Regions from separate parts of the Homo sapiens genome. Here region 2 is linked to region 1. The links come from fine-mapping of genetic effects on gene expression. Tissue or cell type: prefrontal cortex. Region 1 holds a variant in brackets; the other region holds the start of a gene. All regions are shown on one strand. Distances are between the middles of the regions. Region 1 overlaps LINC02930 (long intergenic non-protein coding RNA 2930). Region 2 holds the start of WDR11-DT (WDR11 divergent transcript).

The links. PIP is the estimated chance that this variant, and not a neighbour inherited with it, causes the effect.
Region 2: it holds the start of WDR11-DT, and the variant in region 1 is fine-mapped to the expression of WDR11-DT in prefrontal cortex (BrainSeq, PIP 0.95).

Annotation. Positions count from the first base shown.
Region 1 is chr10:120,761,221-120,765,744 of GRCh38, forward strand. All of the region lies in intron 2 of LINC02930 (long intergenic non-protein coding RNA 2930), which reads left to right. WDR11-DT (WDR11 divergent transcript) reads right to left here. Exons shown (of 3, transcript NR_033850.1): 3 at 592-2,455. Among named protein-coding and RNA genes, the nearest start is that of WDR11-DT, 88 kb to the right of the region's middle. The variant T/C (reference allele first, on the strand shown) is at 2,143.
Region 2 is chr10:120,849,023-120,853,272 of GRCh38, forward strand. WDR11-DT (WDR11 divergent transcript) reads right to left here and starts at 2,157. Exons shown (of 3, transcript NR_033850.1): 1 at 1,672-2,157. It overlaps WDR11 (WD repeat domain 11), which reads left to right and starts at 2,340. Exons shown (of 29, transcript NM_018117.12): 1 at 2,340-2,484; 2 at 3,502-3,613. The coding sequence starts at 2,399. RefSeq lists enhancers at 1,982-2,526, 2,005-2,124, 2,285-2,754, 2,527-3,070, 2,765-2,824.

The DNA.
Region 1 (4,524 bases):
CAAAAGAATTTCAACTAAGCTATGAGACAGCCCCCAGGCAACTGATAAATACCCTCTCCTAATGCTGCTTCATCCTGTCTATTATAGATTTAATAATTAGCTGGTTAAATTATCAATTTATGCAAGTAACTATCACAAGTTGAAACACTTATTTTTAAAAGCTATCTCTTTTTTTGGAAAGTTTGATGGCTCTTAAATAGCTATTAGAAAATATACTTTAAAGTTAAATAAGTTACATATGTCTCTGTACACATATATACGCAGAGACACTAATATTGGAAAGTTAATTGAATTGTCAATTGTGTAATATGAAATTTTAAGTTTAAAGTTCGTTTTTAGTTTTGTCAATTATAAAATACTGTTTACTTGTTGCAGAAAATTTGAAATTGTGTTAGTTTTGTCCCACACATTATACCACAGGGCTTTACTTATAGTTTATCTGATCCTAATCACAATCTATAAGGTAATCACTATCCCTGTTTAAAGACAAGAAACTGTATGTTGTATAGTGTGTGTGTGTGTGTGAGAGAGAGAGAGAGAGAGAGAGAGAGAAGAGGAGAGAAGAGAGAGAGAGAGAGAACCCAAATCATTAAATCAAACAAGTTTATAGCACAGACTAACCGTAAAACATATGGAAAAGGATAATGATTACTATAAAGCAATTCATAATACCTATCATCATTGGGAGCAAATGCATGCAGAAAAAGCTTACTTTGGAGAACCTATTCAGATTTATGCTCTGCAGCCAACATAAATATGAAAAAAAGTCTATACATTTCCACTGCATTTGGCAAAAATAAGTAAGAGTGAGGGATGCCCTGGATACACTTGCTGAGTCACACTTGCCACTGAGGCAGGCAGGAGGGAGCATAGCATCATGGAAAATAATCATTCGTAGGCAGCTTTGATGTGAACGTGGTTTGCATGGTTTAAGGAGGTATGCTCTTGTCAACAATACCACAGCTTCCATGTCAAAAGGCAGGTCTCTCCTAAGAACATTAAGCATGTACTTATCTCCTCTAAGACGTGAGCAGATTCTATTTTACACACCCGTGTGGAAGTCAGCGGGGTATTTTAAGGGCTCCCTCAGTTATTAAATTGACATTTAGGAGGGGTGCAGTGGCTCACACCTGTAATTCTAGCACTTTGGGAGGCCGAGGTGGGCAGATCACGAGGTCAGGAGTTCGAGACCAGCCTGACCAACATGGTGAAATCCCGTCTCTACTAAAAATACAAAAATTAGCTGGGCATGGTGGCATGCACCTATAATCCCAGCTACTCAGGAGGCTGAGGCAGGAGAATTGCTTGAACCCAGGAGGTGGATGTTGCAGTGAGCTGAGATCATGCCACTGCACTCGAGCCTGGGCGACAGAGCAAGACTCCATCTCAAAAAAAAAAAAAGATTAAAAATAATTTCACAAGTAATCTATTTTTACTAGAAAAGTTTGAACTTACAACTAGCAAAAATAATAAACTCTTCTATTGATATCTGGATGAATGTCCTTTCATACTTTTCTAAATATCTATATAAACACACTATATTTCATGAAAATGAGGTGAAAAATGCCTGCTTTATTTTACATAACAATATATCGTCAGCATTTTGTCATTGTAGGGAAACAGTTCTCCATGAGCCTCTCACGTTTCTGCACATCTTGTGAGCAGAGGCATTCTCCACCTATTTTTCTGTCTATCTTTTCACAGATATTTATATAGTGAACAGGTGTGGAAGATTGGGGTAGCGTCTCCCTTCAGAACAATGGCAGATGTGTTCATTGTTAACTATAAAAGATTTGGGTTTCCTAAGCTTGGAGTTCCTGTTCTGTAATACAGCCACTGATGGCAGTGCTAGTGTTACCTGGCCCTTTCCTGTAACTCGGTGGTAATTAGGACTTGAGAAACTGGCAGGAAAAAGGATCCTGAAATTCTGGCTCCTGATATTGCTGTGAGTATTAGAGACCTTTGTTCCTGACCCAGGAGTCTTGTGTCTTCTTTCATGAAGCTATAGCAGAGTTGTTAACTCACAAGTTGGGTAAAATCTCAGACTCCCTGTGGTTCTAGACAATTATATTGCTAAACTATTTTTCAACATCATCATTCTTGATAGCTGTATTTTGACAAGTGCACTCCGATGTCTTTATC[T/C]AATTCCCTGTCGGATTCTTAAACTGTTTTCATGGTCTTGCCCTTGAATATAATATTTGCATACAACATATTCATACAACATATTCATCCCTTATAAATAACTTTTCTAGATGAAGATTTAAGGAACTTTTGCTCTTGATGAACTGCATATTAAATACCATTTCAGATTTTCTGGGTATTTAACAATTAATTTCTATTGACTGCTCCTCTGTCAGTGGTCCTGAAGGTCAGGCTCATTGAGGGGATGGATGGGTCAACCCATGACAGATGATGGGATGGCTCAAGTGTCAGAGGCCAGTCATCCTAGGGTTAGCTGTGAAAATAGAAGGCAAAAGGTCAGAAATCCAAAAGGATGATATAGCTCAAAAACCTCACAAATACGTTCTCACCCTAATATTCCACCTCTACAATTTCACGTTTAGTTGTTGCCAAGTGCATGCACATGAGACAAAACAAAGCCAAGGCCAAAGCCTGGCTAATTCAGCTGGTAATAGACAGTGAACCACTTATAGGTTTAGACAGTTATTATTTTTATATAGACAGTGAAGAGGGGGGCCAGTTCCCCATGATCTTTCCCAAACACCAAACTGAGCAACCCTGAAATGGAAGGGATCAGATGACTACACCATGAGCTGGGGCACTTGCAGATTTTGGCTGAACAGTTTCGTGTTCTGCAGCTCTACTTTTGGAGTGGGGGAAACAGGGCAGAAAGCGCCAAACCTTGTCAGCACCCTGGAGACCTTGAGAAACTGATTCATGACAACCTCTCAAGGAGAGAGGGAGATGAGTGGGAGATGGCTTCACAGCAGCTCCTACAAGCCTCATGTCCTTGGAGGAGCACAGGCATTGTGCCAAGCCATTCAAGAGGTAGCTTCTCTGGTTAGGTGCAAGTCACCAGGGCACCATGGTGGAGCCATTGCCCCACACTTACCTTTTTATCCTATTCTCTCACATTTCCTCCAACCTCTGCCCACACACTATTGCCTGCTGCTGCACATTCTCCAGACATACACCCCACACACCTGCAGCTGTGCCTTGGTTGCAGGTGAGCTTTTAACTGGGGCCGTTTGCCTCCATCTCATACCACCTAGCAAAGTCCCAGCTACCTCCAAGCTGAGCTTGGTGCCTTAATATATTTAATGATGATGACATCCCAAGAGCCAGCAGGGTGGGTATAGTATACTCATTTTACAGAAAAGGAGGGGAGTTGTTAGGGAACTTGCTCAGGGCTCTCCAGTAGCAGAGCCAAGATTCAACTCCTTTGATCCTTTGCAGGATGCAGCACAAAGCCTAGCTCATAGCAAGTTAGAATAAAATGTCTGGAGAGTCACATCAAATGAATTGCAGCAAGGGGGCATCAAGAGGAACTGAATCCACAGTCTTGGATAATCAGATCTAATGGTGGGTGCCAGAGCAAGTGACAGTCAAGGTACATGAGGGATGGGGCACTATCAGAGTCAGAGCTAATTCGGCCTGAATCCTGGGCCTTGTACAGTCTGGTCTTGAAGGGGCAGGGCCCAGCGCTGGTAGAGCTGGGGACTAGCTGTGCTATTGGAAGGTTGTGTTTGAGGAGAGAGGATTTGAGCATAGAAGGGGCATTAGCAGGTTTGGGGTTCATCCTGATGTTCCCTAGCTTCTCCCTTCTCTCTGGAGTCCCTCCTCCCCCTGGCCTGTCTTTAGCCCTTTTAGTTCCAATCACTTTATCCTTTCAGCCTGGCCGAGCTCTCCCGCTGGTCTCATTCTCCTCTAACCAGACCTGGGGTTGTCGGCTGCTTTTGGAATTCACCATTAGGAGATGAAGAGGCAGCCACAGGTTGACTGAGCAAGCGTCATTGTCTATTTGAAGTTTCAAAGGTATCTCTGAAAATAAACACAGTTTTCTGCAAGAGTGAAATGGCATCTGTGGTAGAATTGGAAAGACAGTTGTCATTTTGCTTGGAGTTCCTCTTCTATAGATGGCAGCTGGGCCTTTCAAAGTCAAGGGTGACAGTCTGCACATGGCTTCTCCCCAGCACTGTACTGGCTGGTGGGGGTGGGGTGCAATACAAGAGAAATAAACTTCCCCGGTTTGCTGCTCTGACTGAGGCCTCCTTCCCCCACCCCCTCATCAGCCAGGATGCAGGACTCCCTATCTGGGTATCTTCCACATTGAAAATTGTGCTGTGTTGAGATAACATGGCACAGAGATTCAACCCACAGGGGTTTTGGGGTTAGGCAGGCATAGCTATAAGCCTCAGCACTGCCCCTCTACAGCAGCTTTTGTAATGTTGAGCAAGTGACTTTGCCTCTCAGAGCCTCCATTTCCTCATGTGTAAATGGGGATAAGAGGATCTGCCTCCTAGGATGATAGGGATGGATTTAGTGAAATAGTGCATGTCAAGA
Region 2 (4,250 bases), 88 kb after region 1:
CAAGCTCGAGGATTTGCCCCCACCCAGGACTGGCAAATTAGCTTTACTCAACATGCCCGAGTCAGGAAACTAAAATACCTCTTAGTCCAAATAGACACTTCCACTGAATAAGTAAAGGCCTTTCCTACAGCGTCTGAGAAGGCCACCACAGTCATTTCTTTCCTTCTGTCAGACATAATTCCTCAGTTTAGCCTTCCACCTCTATACAGTCTGATAACAGACCAGCCTTTATTAGTCAAATCAGCCAAGCAGTTTTTCAGGCTCTTAGTAGGTGTCAGTGAAACCTTTATATCCCTTACAGGCCTCCGTCTTCAAGAAAAGTAGAACGGACTAAAGGTCTTTTAAAAAGACAGCTCACCAAGCTCAGCCACCAACTTAAAAAGGACTGGACAATACTTTTACCACTTTCGCTTCTCAGAATTCAGGCCTGTCCTCAGAATGCTACAAGGTACATCCCATTTAAGCTCCTGTATAGACGCTCCTTTTTATTAGGCCCCAGTCTCATTTGACACCAGACCAACTTAGACTGTGCCCCAAAAAACTTGTCATCCCTATCTTTTGTAGTCATACTCCTATTCACCATTCTCAACTACTCATACATGCCCTGCTCTTGTTTACACTGCCGGTTTACACTGTTTCTCCAAGCCATCACAGCTGATATCTCCTGGTGCTATCCCCAAACTGCCACTCTAAACTCTTGAAGTAAATAAATAATCTTTGCTGGCAGGACTATGCTGAATCTCCTTAGGCACTCTCTAATCAGATGTCCTATGTCCTCCCAATTCTTAGACCTTTTATACCTGTTTTTCTCCTTCTCTTATTCCATTTAGTTTCTCAATTCATCCAAAACCGTATCCAGGCCGTCACCAATCATTCTATACGACAAATGTTTCTTCTTACATCCCCACAATATCACCCCTTACCACAAGACCTCCCTTCAGCTTAATCTCTCCCACTGTAGGTTCCCACGCCACCCCTAATCCCACTTGAAGCAGCCCTGAGAAACATCACCCATTCTCTCTCCATACCACCCCCCAAAAATTTTCGCCGCCTCAACACTTCAACACTATTTTGTTTTGTCTTATTAATATAAGAAGGCAGGAATGTCACGCCTCTGAGCCCAGGCCAGGCCATCGCATCCCGTGACTTGCATGTATACATCCAGATGGCCTAAAGTAACTGAAGATCCACAAAAGAAGTACAAACAGCCTTAACTGATGACATTCAACCACTGTGATTTGTTCCTGCCCCACCCTAACTGATCAATGTACTTTGTAATCTCCCCCACCCTTAAGAAGGTTCTTTGTAATTCTCCCCACCCTTGAGAATGTACTTTGTGAGATCCACCCCTGCCCACCAGAGAACAACCCCCTTTGACTAATTTTCCATTACCTTCCCAAATCCTATAAAACAGCCCCACCCCTATCTCCCTTCGCTGACTCTTTTCGGACTTAGCCCACCTGCACCCATGTGAAATAAACAGCTTTATTGCTCACATAAAGCCTGTTTGGTGGTCTCTTCACACGGACGCGCATGAAACTAACAATGTATTGGGGAGAGAAACACACATCTGCAAATATCATTGCTGAAAAGAAATCATTGCATTAAGTGCTATAGTTAAAGCGTATAAACCCAACACTGAACACAAAGGAGGGAAGGACTGGGTCTGACCTGGAGAGCAGCAGAGGAGAAAGTGCGAAATGAAAGGTACCCAGCAACAGACAAAGGGTCACACTTGGCCCCAGACATAGTGCTTCTTCCTCAAGTGCGAAGGGAGTATTGCAAACACCAGATATGCAGTGTTATCTGTATTTGGAAATTGTTTATATTCAGGCCATTCACTTCATTCAGTCTGGCAATTTCATTCAATTAATCTCATTCATTTCTTAATTAATCTCATTCATTATTCTCTGTAAACTCCACGAGAGCGGAGACTTTGTGTCTTCTTCATCGGTAGATCCCCCATGCCTACTGGCACTAGTAGTTGCCCTAAATTCACTTATCAAAGGCAGCAAGAATAACTGGGACTCTTCTCTCTTGCTTTTCACGATTTCCAGCAGGGCACAAAGGCCTACAGTCCCCACCTGAAAAAAACAGACTTGACTGGAGGCAGCGCCTCTTCTTCCAAATACAGCCCCAGCTGACGCAGATTAGCACAACCGCCTAAGCGGCGGAACTCTGGAGAGTGCGGAACCTAGGATCCTAGGAAACTGAAGGCAACGGAACCTGGGGGCGATGGAATCCGGGAGCGGTGGAACCCGGAGCCTGTAGAACTTGAATCTAGAGGAACCTGACAGCGGCGCCGAGGGGGCCACCCGGACTCTGTTTGGAACGGAAGCACAGTGTCCGCCGCTTCCTGGTTGCGGGTCAGCGCCCAGGTCCTGGGCTGGCCGCCGGGATGTTGCCCTACACAGTGAACTTCAAGGTGTCGGCGCGCACCCTCACGGGGGCCCTCAACGCCCACAACAAGGCGGCGGTGGACTGGTGAGGACGCCGAGCTTCCAGGTCGCCAGGATCGGCCAGGAATGTGTGAGGGGGAAGGGGGAAGGACAAGAGGTTTCACCCCCTGGTTAGTTTGGCCTCGCTAAGGCAGGGAGCCGCCCTCACGCAATGAGCTTGCTTTCAGTTGGTGGATTTTTGTTGTTACAAAAGTGATAATAGCCCCGTGTGGGAAATTCCCCCATGCAAATACATTTCCCCTCTTTCTCGCGTATTTCTCTGCTGTTTTCTCTGCACCTCGCCCTTTTGCCGTTCCATTCCTCTCTCTTTTCCTCTCCTCCAGCTTCCAGGCTTCTCTCTCTCCACCATTAATTCCCTGTGCACTTTCTCTTTCCCATCCTGTCTTTTCTTTTTCGTTGTCTTGTATTCCTGTTGTCTTTCAACAATGTGCCAGACCCTGTGCTAGGCGCCTGTTCTTTCACCTGTCCTTTTCACCTCTTTTCGGGCTCCTCCTGTGTAGAACATTCCTGCCTTCAACAGGTCGTCTTTATTACTCTCTCCTTTCACTATAAATTACTACTGCAGCTCTGAAAACTACTCATTAGACAAATGTAAAGCAAAATTCTGTGGCTGTGGGATGTTGTTAGGAGGACTGAAACGTCTTGTGCAGTGTTTGTCGTTTTATTTAGTTGGAAGGACTAGGATTAGTCGCAGTATCCCCAGGCACATTGTGGATACTAAGGATTAGAAATCGGATAAGCGAAAGACGTATGCCTACAAGAACAGTCAGAGGGCACAAGTTCCTTTTTATGTCCTCGGGTCTCTATTTTCATATCTTTTAGAACTTTTTTTATCCGAATGAAAAGTGAATTTCAACAAGCATTTTAAGCTTAGCCAGATCTTTTATTTAAGTGGGATAATGATAAATACTGGCCTTTGGGTTTAAATGATTTTATTAATGGTGGTACATATGAATTAGACTTATCATTTATTTAGGCTTGGCAAGAAAGAAGTCGTCCTGCTTTGTTCTGTACTTAAACTTTAACATTACTGTTTTGCTAGGGGCTGGCAAGGTTTAATTGCTTATGGATGTCATTCACTTGTGGTAGTGATTGATTCCATTACTGCCCAAACTCTTCAAGTTTTAGAAAAGCATAAAGCTGATGTTGTAAAGGTAAGTAAAATCCCACTTTGACGCTAACATGTTGTCTAGTCTAAAGTTTAATACTGTGTATCACTAAGCTCTCATTAAGTCTTACGTGTAAGTGTTGAATAGCTTTTAAATATAACAACCTATTTGGGGTAGCCTAGAATTTTCATATATATGACTTAATGTCAATACAGGGTGAGTTATTAAATGCTAGTTGTTAGATCATTTTAAGGCAGATGAAAGTTCTACCATTTACAAGACCACTCAGTCATTCCTTAGTTTTGAGCACTTACCATATGCTATGGATATGGAGATGAAAGCCCTCAGATAATTCTCCATCTTATAAGGAAGACTCACAGCGTGATAGTGTGATAAGTGAGACTTGCGTAACACGCTGTGAGAAAACAGAGGAGCTGCATATTGCCTGGTTGTGAGGAGAGTCACAGAAGTCTACAGTTTCAAGACTAGTAGACAGTAGTTAGCCAAGTAAAAAATTGACAAGGAGCATTGCAGGGAAAAGCAAGAATATACACAGAAGTAAGTAGCGTGCCATAAAGATGGCTAAAGATGGGACACTTGTAGGAGTGATGAAATAAGAGGCAGCCAGAGAGATTCAGCTGTCTGTCCTGAAGTTTTGTAAGATTACGAAGGAGTTTGGATT